Homo sapiens: one gene and its partners. The protein of the gene in region 3 purifies or fractionates together with the protein of the main gene of each other region. This does not show direct contact. Each region holds a gene or a part of one and is shown on either strand. Other genes may lie near its edges.

Evidence for each region.
Region 1: the proteins of BRI3BP (region 3) and TMEM238L purify together in Homo sapiens (co-immunoprecipitation; one study listed by IntAct). This does not show direct contact.
Region 2: the proteins of BRI3BP (region 3) and GPC1 purify together in Homo sapiens (co-immunoprecipitation; one large-scale study listed by IntAct). This does not show direct contact.

What each region holds. Positions count from the first base shown.
Region 1 is NC_000017.11:10,801,627-10,805,339, reverse strand, and holds the start of TMEM238L (transmembrane protein 238-like), read left to right. Parts: upstream 1-1,240; 5' UTR 1,241-1,376; coding exon 1,377-1,616; 3' UTR 1,617-1,734; intron 1,735-2,831; exon of another isoform or gene 2,832-2,941; intron 2,942-3,713.
Region 2 is NC_000002.12:240,438,614-240,442,261, forward strand, and holds part of GPC1 (glypican-1 precursor), read left to right. Parts: intron 1-3,648. UniProt on the Homo sapiens protein: Cell surface proteoglycan that bears heparan sulfate. Binds, via the heparan sulfate side chains, alpha-4 (V) collagen and participates in Schwann cell myelination.
Region 3 is NC_000012.12:125,014,045-125,017,692, reverse strand, and holds part of BRI3BP (BRI3-binding protein precursor), read right to left. Parts: intron 1-3,648. UniProt on the Homo sapiens protein: Involved in tumorigenesis and may function by stabilizing p53/TP53.

The DNA of each region.
Region 1 (3,713 bases), on a different chromosome or scaffold from region 3:
AGAGTTTGAAACCCCATCTCTAATACAAATACAAAAATTAGCCAGGCATGGTCATGGGCACCTGTAATCCCAGCTATTCCAGAGGCTGAGGTGGGAAAATTGCTTGAACTTGGGAGGCAGAAGTTGCAGTGAGCCAAGATCGCACCATTGCACTCCAGCCGGGGCAACAAGAATGAAACTCTGTCTCAAAAAAAAAAGGAAATCAGATCCACCTACTTATTCTCACCCTCTGGGGAAGGCAAAAGTGAGAGTGGAAATTATTTTCTTCATTTATCTGGGTAAACTGAGGCCCAGAAAGGTTTGGTGCCCTGTTCTAGCCTCCCTGTGAATCAGGGACAGAGGGGTGGCTGTCTGCAGCCCTGCCAAGGACTGCCGCTGCATTTTCCTCATTTGATGTTCACCCCCACACCCGCCGTGAGCAGCCACGGGGATAAGATCGCTCCCATCAATGTAGAAGGGATGCAGGCAGTGTCTGGAAGGGCTTACAGGGTCATCTATTATGAGAAAGAAAATGAACATAAAATGAGTTCATGTAGAAAACACAGAGGCAACAGGCCCCGGAAACATCCCTTGACTTTTGCCTGGGAATTGCCCTTTGGTCCACACAGAATCCACTGCAGGAAGAGGCCAGAAGTTTCTTCTCACCCTGTTGTCTTCTCTCTGTCCCCTCTGTCTTTTCCATCTCTACCCCTTTCCCGCCCTTATCCTTACTGTCCATTATCCTAGGGAACTCAGATCCTTCCGTCTGCAGAGTGAGGGCTCTACAAGAAGGCAAAACTTCTCTTGCTAACATGGACCAATTCTTACAGCAACGCTTCAAAATCGATTGATCTTACAAACTCTTGTCTATGTCCTTTACATAAAACCTTTTCCCCCAAGGAAGAGAGTAGGGCAGGGAGGTGAAGAGGAATGGAAACTCCACCACTCCACCCCGCTATACTAGATGAAGCAGCTGTGTCTCAGAAACAGGGCACTCAGGCTCTCTGGCTTCCAGGGATTAGAGAACAAGGCACAGATCAGCCCCTCCCCCAGAATCACAGGACCGCCAACTTGGCAGATGCATCCAAGGGCACCCTGACTCCTCTGCCACATGGATTGTAGGTCCCAGCGATGAGCAGCCCAATTAACAGTGATGTCAGACTGTTTGGGTCCAGATCATTCCTGAGCCATGAAACAGTTAAGAAATATCCTGCCCCACTGGCTGCCGTGCTCATAAAGGTAGACCCACGTGTACTTCCCTGTGGCTCCAAGAAGCGCCAGCTCGCTCATTTGCTCACACCCAGCAGGCAGAGAAGGCAGCAGCAGGCAGGACCGCCACCCTCCCATGCAAATCACCCCCGGGAGTGCAGCTGGGCTCCTCCCGCTCCTCCTGGGCAATGCTCCTGGGGAGTCTGTGGGGAAGATGCCATCCAGGGCGCTGTGCGCTCTTCCTCATCCTCGCCCTCCTGCTGGACGCGGTCGGCCTGGTCCTTTTGCTGCTGGGGATCTTGGCCCCCCTGAGTTCCTGGGACTTCTTCATCTACACAGGTGCCCTGATCCTGGCTCTCAGCCTACTGCTCTGGATCATCTGGTATTCCCTCAACATTGAGGTGTCTCCTGAAAAACTGGACCTGTAATTTGGCCATGGGAAGAGGAGAAGAGACGCAGGTGCTGTATGCAGACATGTCTGTGAACCTGGGGCTCTTGGGCAGCAACACGTTGCAGCTTCCACCTAGCAAGCCACGCCGGGACCAGGTGAGTGCACACAAGACCTACCTGGCAGGGTGGCCAGAGAGGCTTGGACAAGCAGGGGCAAGACCAGGCCTCCTGAGGCTGCATAAGCAAATAGCCAGACACTGCACCCTGACTGGGGATCCTGTGGCCCTGGCCTCAGGTCCTGCTGGGGTGGCCAGCCAAGAGGACGTGGGGCAGGTGTTTTCTCCTCCGGGCCCTTTTCCTCGCAGAGGCTGGAAAGAGAGTCTCAACAGCCCCTTCCACCCCTGATATACCACGAATGATCCTGGCTTCTGGGCACAATGGGAAGTTATCCCTTTACCTCGGAACTTGGGGACAAAAAGACCCCATCTGCATTCTCTGTTGGGAAGAATCTCTGCTGGGGAGAAAAGTCTTTAGCACAGGAGAGGACGGAAAGTTCCCCAATGACTCTTGTGCCCTTGCATACATGAAGGGGTGTGAACTGGGCCACGGTAAAAGCAAACAGAGCAGAACCACCCAGAACGGCCCCTCTCGTTCACTTCCTCCCTGCACCTGCCCAGATGGGATACAAGAAGCGGGGTAGGGACTACTCGCCTCCATGCCCACTCAGTGCACACACCTCCTCTCTCTGCAGTATTCCCACCCCACCCTCACTCACACTCACACGCAGCCAACACATGTGCCCAGCCAGTCTCCAAGGCCCAGAAGTCAAGACAGTTTGGCTTCATGGATTTCATCCGCTGAGTTGCATGTCACAGCTCAGTCTATCGCGTGCAACCAAAGAGGCAGAGAGTTGTAAGATTTTTTCACATCAAGACAGAGTCCCAGAGATAGAGTGGTCTGGTCCTTACAACCCTGAATTAGAGATGGACAGCTGTCTCCAGGGGACTGAAGTCAGAGCCACGGTCCATTGGGCAGCCATACCCTCCTCCCCAGGTGGGCCCAACCTGCACGCAGGTGTATCCAGGCACTCCCGTTTCTTACTCCCTTACCAGAAGTAAGAGCAAAGGTCGTTGCTGAGTTGAAAGAAGGAAATAATAATTGTGTCTTTTGTGGGGGATTACACCTGACTCTCAGAACTCAGAGAAAAGAGAAGCAAAATGAAGAGGTCTCAGTAGAGTAAGGTAAGCCCATACCTAGGAAATGATGTAGAAACAGATGAGAAGTCAGTCCCACTCTGATCTTCAGCACTTGTTAGCTGGGTGTTTTTGGCCAGGTTGCACACTCTGAGCCTCAGGATTCTCATCTGTAAGATGAAGAGAATATTTCTGGCCCTTATTGCTGCAAGGATCGAAAAGAGATAAGGCAGGGAAAGGCTGTACAATTGATGTGGTTCTTACACCAGATGTCAAGCATACAAAACACATAATCTGGGATGAGTTAACTGACCCAAAGTCCAAATGTGAAGTACCTTGGTGTCTCTCAAATTGGTAGTGATGGGGGTCAACTCACACTTTGCATCAGGAAACTTCAGAGCAAAAAGGGTCCCTGATTTGTGTGCTGGTATGTTGGAATGTGTCAGGCACTGTGCAAGACACTGGGGATAAGAAATGAGACACATGGACCAGGCACAGTGACTCATGCCTGTAATCCCAGCACTTTGGGAGGCCGAGGCGGGCAGATCACTTGAGGTCAGGAGTTCAAGACCAGCCTTGGCAACATGGTGAAACCCCATCTCCACCAAAAATACAAAAAATTAGCCACGCATGGTGATGCACACCTGTAATCCCAGCTATTCAGGAGGTTGAGGCAGAAGGATTGCTGGAGCCCAGGAGGCACAGGCTGCAGTGAGCAGAGATTGCACCACTGCATTCCAACCTGGGCGGCAGAGTGAGACCTGTCTCAATTAAAAAAAAAAAAAGACACATGACGTGGGGGCTCTACTCTCAGGGAGTTTACCATCAGGTGAGAAAGACAGACACTCACCAAAGATTCACACTTACAAAAGTACAATAACAAAGTCAGGTCTGCTCTAGGAAGGAGAGGAGCATCCTGCCACAAGAATATTCAATAGAGAA
Region 2 (3,648 bases), on a different chromosome or scaffold from region 3:
AGAGATCTGATACTTCCTCGTGGGAAGGAGAGCAGTTGGCCCTGGGTGTGTGGCGGGCCTTCCCAGCCTCTGCCCCAGGGACCAGAAAAGGCAGTGGGTGACAGGAGACTTAGCTCATGAAAGAGGGCAGTGTCGGGACATATTGGGCTCCCTTTTGAGACTTCCTTTGTCCTCTGGACAGCCAGGCCAGGCTGCAGTGACAGCAGTGGTCATCCCATTTTATGGGCAAGGAAGCAGGCCTGGGTGCCACCAGCTGGACGGTGGCACTGCAGCAGGGCACCCGGCCACCCTCCCTTTATGCCAGGGCACGGCACAGAAGGCAAGGGCGGAGCCGAGTGGCACCCCGGGTGCCCCTGCGCTGCCAGGAGCCCTCATGCTGAATCACTGCCCGCGTGCCAGCAGGCCTCCTGCTTTTGCTTGCAAGGTTGTGTCTGGGCATAGGTGTTCCCAGAGCACCTGTCTGGCCTCCTGATGTCTGATGTGATGTGATGTGTGTCTGTTTGCTCCTTTGCTGGGGTCTCAGCGCCCCACCTTGGCACCTGAGCTCCCTGGTCGCTGGGACCACCTCTAACTGTTTCCCTGTTGTAGCCACAGAACCCGGCTGGCTCCCGGCCCAGGATAGCTTCTCGGAGGACACCCCCAGGCCTTCCTGGCTTTATACCTGGCTGTGCTGGGTGGGGAGCGGGACATGGAGGGTAGAGGAGGGTCTCCTTGGAGCAGACACCCCTGTTCTCAGGGTCTCCCAGCCTGAGGCAGAGGAGGGGCCCTAAGGTCTAGTTTTGGGGGCAGAAGTCAGAGTGGGGCATGGGACTGTCGGTGGCACAGAAACTGCCCAGCCGCTCCTGTGCCCAGAGTGGCAGCCCGCCTACCAGCTGGAGCGGGCACCAGCGTGCCCTGGAGCCTGTACCAAGCACCCACTCGTTGGGCCCCTCCGAAGGAATCTTTTCTTCTCTGTGCCACTTTTGACCGCCTGGGTGGTTGGCACACAGACTCTGGGGAACCATCCTCAGAGGGCCTGGACCTCTCCTTCCCACATCCCTGAAAGGGTGTTTCCGGCTGGGCCCGGGAGAGCCCACCAGCATCTGCTTCTCAGTCCTGCTCAGCGGGCCTCTCGGAGGCTGCCTGGCACACAGCCCCTCACCAGACCAGACAGTTCCCTGTGCCCTGTCCTGTCCAGGTGGCTCAGCGTGGTTCCCAGGTGGTCCTCAGCCTTTGCTGTGTCGCTGCTCTTCCCTCCATGAGAGGAGCTCATCATCCCCAGCGTGAGGACCGAGCGGAGCCCAGGGGAGCCCTGATCCGACAGGGCCACCTGCGTGATGCAATGGCCTGGGTCCCTGCTGGACCGCCAAGCCTCCCATGCCAGGCAGGCCACAGCACTCCTCAGGCACAGATGCCCCCACCCCCATCCCATCCCCGGTGTCCCCGGGCCTTTTCACAGGAGAGAAAGGGAATAATCGTGACCTCCTGTGAAGGTGGCCAGGAGGGAGAAGGTGCTGGGGCTGTGCACCTCGTGGGCAGCCTCGGGCTGTGTCCCCCCTCTCCCCGGACACCCTCTGCAAAGGCCCACACACACCCCTCTCAGTTAATGGCATCCGGTACCCTAAGAGCACTCATGAACCCGGGTGCTCTTAGAACACGGGGAAACCCGGCTTGTGGAGCGTTTCCCATGACTGTCTGGTTAACACATCAGACGGAAGGGGTCTTTGTAGACCTGTTTTACAAATGAGTAAACCGAAGCCTGGTGAAGCGCTCCTCTTAGGGCCAGATCTGGCTACAGCATTGACCACTGCCCAGTAAAGCCAGGCCAGGCTGCTTGTCCCAGGCTCTGCACTTCTTGGAAGGCTCGTGCTTTTCCCAGCCCGCTCTCCTGTCCTGGGCCTGGGCTCCATCTCTTAGGCTCATTTAGAACGTTTAACCGGGACTCCTCCTGGCCTCCCTGCCTCCGGTCCTGCCCAGCTCCTCCTGGCCTCCCTGCCTCCGGTCCTGCCCAGCTCCTCCTGGCCTCCCTGCCTCCGGTCCTGCCCAGCTCCTCCTGGCCTCCCTGCCTCCGGTCCTGCCCAGCTCCTCCTGGCCTCCCTGCCTCCGGTCCTGCCCAGCTCCTCCTGGCCTCCCTGCCTCCGGTCCTGCCCAGCTCCTCCTGGCCTCCCTGCCTCCGGTCCTGCCCAGCTCCTCCTGGCCTCCCTGCCTCCGGTCTTGCCCAGCTCCTCCTGGCCGTGCCGCCCAGAGAGTCGTACTTCCACACAGCTGGGCCTCACCCTCCGGCCTGGCTCCACTGCCTGTGGGGGGCAGGACTGCTAGGAGGGCTGTTCCCAGCGTGTGCCACGAAGCCCTGCATGTCCCCAACAGGGCAGACCAGCCACCCACACTGGGCCAAGTGCCCCAGGATTAGTGGACAGGTACCCTATTCAGGTGCCCACAGGTGCCAAGCCAGGGAGATAAGGCAGTCCAGTCTGTTGGGGCTTGTACCTTCACACCAGCAATCTCTAGGGACAGTGTGAGCCTGTGGTTAACGCGCCTTCCCAGGTACCGAGGACGCCTCCCTACAGCAGGACGGGGGGCATACCTACCTGGTGGCCGAACCGCAGGGCTGCACATCAGACCTCGGAGGAGAGCTTAGTGGGTGTCTGAGCATGCCCATGTCTGTTCTATGGCATCCATGTGCATGGCACAGGTGTCAGCCATGGGCTGGCACTAGACAGGAGACGAGCCAGGGGAGGGGCTCACCCGAAGCCACACTGGTCAGGTCTGGCCTGGGGCCCCACATCTGCCGTGCCCGGGCCAGTGAGAGGCTGGACGCCTTTTCTTAAGCCAGACCGTCCTCACAGGGCCTGGCTCAGTTATTTCAGATCAAGACTGGACCCGTGGTGGAGGCTGGGGTGGGCACTCCTACATGCGGGGCCTCTGCCCAGCCCTGGCCCTGTCCAGTGTCGACGTGCCCAGAGCCCTGAGCCGGCCTGGATCTTGCCAGTCGCCAGCACAGCCCTGTGGGGCCCGGGATCTTGCCCACTTTACGTGGGGGCTCCAGACAGGAGCCGCCTGCCCGGAGCCTGGGCTCCTCGCTGCCGTGCCTGTGGTGGCTTTTCTTTGTCTGGGAACAGGCCTGGGCAGGTGCCCTGAGCCGCTTGAAGTCTCCTGACGGGGTGGGGGGTGCAGTGTAGGGTGTTGAGGCTTGGGCCAGGGAAGCGGGCGGTTCTCCCTCCACCTCCAGGCCCCACACCCAGGCGGGAGCACGCAGCAGCCAGGTGTTGGGTGAGGGCTATGCTGAGGAGCAGGGCCCAGAGCTGCAGCCTCCTTGGCTGCCCTTGGCCCGCCGTGGGTGGCGGGGAAGTACAGGTGTGAGGGGCATACCCCACTGCCCCAGGCTCGGTAGCAGTCTGGAATCCGGGTGGGTTTAGGAGCCCCTGAGAGGGCCAGGCCAGCCTCACACCATCCCCTCTCCTGCCTGTGGCCTCAGCTCCATCTCCCGCCAGCTCCTGCTGACCCACCTTTCTGGCACACCTGTCCCCTCCCTCCACGGTGTCCTCCCTGTGCCCACCCACAGCACCCGCCTCCTCCGGCCTTTCCCCACAGCTTGACTTCCCGGGCATCGGCCAACACGTACCCTCCCTGTTGCCGGGGCCCCCGCCTGGGCAGGCCTGAGCTCCACAC
Region 3 (3,648 bases):
TGGACATGTGCTCTGTGCCAGCAGATCTAGAATGGGGACAAAGGCTGTGCCATCTATCGTGTGCTGAGCCCTTGAAATGTGACAAGTCAGAACTGATGTGCGCTCTAAGTGTCAAATAGAGACTGTCTCAAAGGCCTTAGTTACCCAAAAAACTGTGAGACACCTGATAATTTTCTATTAATTATAAGTTGTTTTTAATATATTGGGTTAACTAAAATATCTTATTAAAATTAATTTCACCTGGGCATGGTGGCACATGCCTGTAATCCCAGCACTCTGGGAGGCCAAGGCAGGCAGATCACTGGAGCTCAGGAGTTCGAGACCACCCTGGGCAACATGGCAAAACCCCATCTCTATAAAAAAAAAACATTAGGGGGGCACGGTGGCTCACGCCTGTAATCCTAGCACTTTGGGAGGCCGAGGCAGGTGGATCATGAGGTCAGGAGTTCGAGAATACCCTGGCCAAGATGGTGAAACCCCATCTCTACTAAAAAAAAATACAAAAATTAGCCAGGCATGGTGGCAGGTGCCTGTAATCCCAGCTACTCGGGAGACTGAGGCACGAGAATTGCTTGAACCCGGGAGGTGGAGGTTGCAGTGGTGAGATGAGATCGGCCACTGCATTCTAGCCTGGGCGACAGAGCAATACTCGGTCTCAGAAAAAAAAAAATAATAATAATAATACAAACGTTAGCCAGATGTGGTGGTGCACACTTGTGGTCCCAGCTAGTTGGGAAGCTGAGGTGGGAGGATCACCTGAGCCTGGGTTGGTGGAGGTTGCAGTGAGCTGGGATTGCACCACTGCACTCCAGCCTGGGCAACAGAGCAAGACTCTGTCTCAAAAAAAAAAAAAAAAAAAAAAAAAAAGGCTGGGCGCAGTGGCTCATGCCCGTAATCCCAGCACTTTGGGAGGCTGAGGCGGGCGGATCACGAGGTCAGGAGCTCAAGACCAGCCTGGCCAACATAGTGAAACCCTGTCTCTACTAAAAATACAGAAAAATTAGCCGGGTGTGGTGGTGCATGCCTGTAATCCCAGCTACTTGGCAGGCTGGGGCAGGAGAATCACTTGAACCCAGGAGGCAGAGGTTGCAGTGAGCCGAGATAGCGCCATTGCACTTCAGCTTGGGCAATAGAGTGAGACTTCGTCCCTCCTACCCCCCACTCCCCACCCCCTCCCCCCCAAAAAAGGAAGAAAAACTAATTTCACCATTTCTTTTTACTCTTTTGACATGGTTACTAGAAAACTTCACATCACCTAGGGGGCTCACATTTTTTTGCTATTAGACCATTCGGGGCTACAGAGTTCCCATTTTAACCAGACTCAAAAAAAAAAAAAACACTGAAGAAAGAAATTATAGAATTGTGCTCACAGAAACCTTTTTTACCAGAATATCCAACGTTGGTGTATGGCTTCCTGTAAAGCATTTTGCACTCAAACTTCTACGCATAAGACACGAATTCCAAAGGGCTTCGGATGCCTTGAAGCTTACGCATCAAACAGAACTAGAAAAGCTTCGACACGGAAGCAAGCTCGTTTCGCCTCCAGAACGCGCCAGCTGCTCCCCTGATGAATGCAGGCATTCAGGGCTCGTGGATCCGCTGCCGATGCCTCTATTCTGGGCTTCTTCCATATGATTAGGAGGCTGTTCCTACTCTGTAGTTTTTCATTCCAAGCTGCGTGCGATTTTCTGCAATCAGGTTTGTTTCTCCAGGGTTCAATGGGTGGCGACGAAAACACAGAGAGTTTGACAATCCGGGCAGGTGGTGGATACGGAAGCTAAGAGGATTGCACGCGGTGGCTGCATCTGGGGGAGGGTGCGTTAACTCTGCCAAGTCCCTGGAGGGGCCATGAGTGGCCCCAGGGGGCTGCCAGGTGCACAGTGTCCTCTGGCTATGCTGACGCCTCTGATTCTTTGTCTGAGCAGTGAGGTGACTGAGTTGGCCTAAGGCCTCTTAAAGGTTGAACTCAATGAATTAAGGCTGGAGACATTTCTGAATGGCCTGGGGTGTCAACAGGTATGAACCAGTGTGCCCATCATGGCCAGTGGACCCCACTCCCCCATCTCTGGGTGTCAAGCACCAATGGGCGCTGCTGAGAGATTCCGCATGTAACAGGGCTATGGTATAATGGTTTCCCGTGACTGCCGCAACAAACCACTACCAACTGGGTGGTTTACAACAGAAATTCATCCACTTGCGGTTCTGGAGGCTGGAAGTCTGAAATCAAGGTCTTGGTGGGGCCACACTCCCTCTGAAAGTTCAAGGGAGGATCCTTCCTCGCCTCTTCCAGCTTCTGGTGGTCCCAGTGTTCCTTGGCTTGTGGCTCCGTCCCTCCAGTCCCTGTTTCTCATTTCGCATGGCCGTCTTCTCCCTATGTTTCTTGGTGTTTCTGTGTCCAAATTCCCCACTTCTTATAAGGACAGCAATCATTACACTGAGGGTCCACCCTAATCCAAGACGATCTCATTTAACTTTATCACATCTGCAGACCCCACTCCCAAACAAGGGCTCACTCACAGGTCCAGGATTAGGACTGGAACACATATTCTTGAGGAGCACATTTCAGCCCACATGACTGGCTAAGCAGTGGGACCCACAGCCCTCCTGCTCTTATTAACCAAGGGTGGGCTGGGTGTGGTGGCTCACGCCTACAATCTCAGCACTTTGGGAGGCTGAAACAGTAGAATGGTTTGAGCCCAAGAGTTTGAGACCAGCCTGGGCAACATGGTAAGACCCTGTCTCTACAGAAAATTCAAAAATTAGCCAGGTGTGGTGGCATGGGCCTGTGGTCCCAGCTACTCGGGAGGCTGAGGTGGGAGGATCACGAGCCCAGGAAGTTGAGGCTGTAGTGAGCTGTGATTGAGCCACTGCACTCCAGCCTGGGCAACAGAGTGAGATCCTAAACAAAAACAAACAAAAAGGGCCTCTTTGTGCCAGGTGCAGAGCTGGGGCCAGAGTGCAGCCTGGAGATGCCAGGCCTAGGCTGTTGACACAAATGATGTGGTTTATGACAACACCTGCGTTCCCTCTGGGAGTCTAGAATTTTGACACGTGTCAAGCAGAGGGTGACTACATGACCAGCCCCCAGTAAAAAGCCTGGGCAGGGAGTCCTTGGTGGGCACCCTCTGCTGGGGGAATTAAGTGTGTCCCGTATGACTCCACAGGGAGAGAACTCTGAAGCTTGGGCCTGGCCTGCCCGGGAATTCGCGCACCTTTTCCCTTTGCTGATGGTGTTTGCGTCCTTCCGTCACAATAAATCACGGCTGTGAGGACAACTATATGCTGAGTCCTGCCAGTGCTCCTAGGGAACCGGTGAGCCTGTAGATGGTCTTAGGAACCCTGCCACATGCAGCAACTGCAGACCTTCCCGTGAGACAGGTGGCAGCTGGGACCAGGGACCAGGGCGGTGGGGCTGGAAAGAGCCCAGCTGGGGAATTTCCTCTGGAAAGGCCCAGGGGAAGAGCGGCCTCCACCTTGTGGACAGAAGGAGAGCAGTGGAGCGGGGGCAGCTAGGAGATCCCTGTTTACCTGGCACACCATGGGGCACGGTAGAGAAAACGGGAAGGTTACTTCATCCTGAGAGCATGGGATGCCTCTGAAGCTCTTAAGGCGGTAAGGGACAAGGTCTCCTCTGGGTATAAAAGCTGT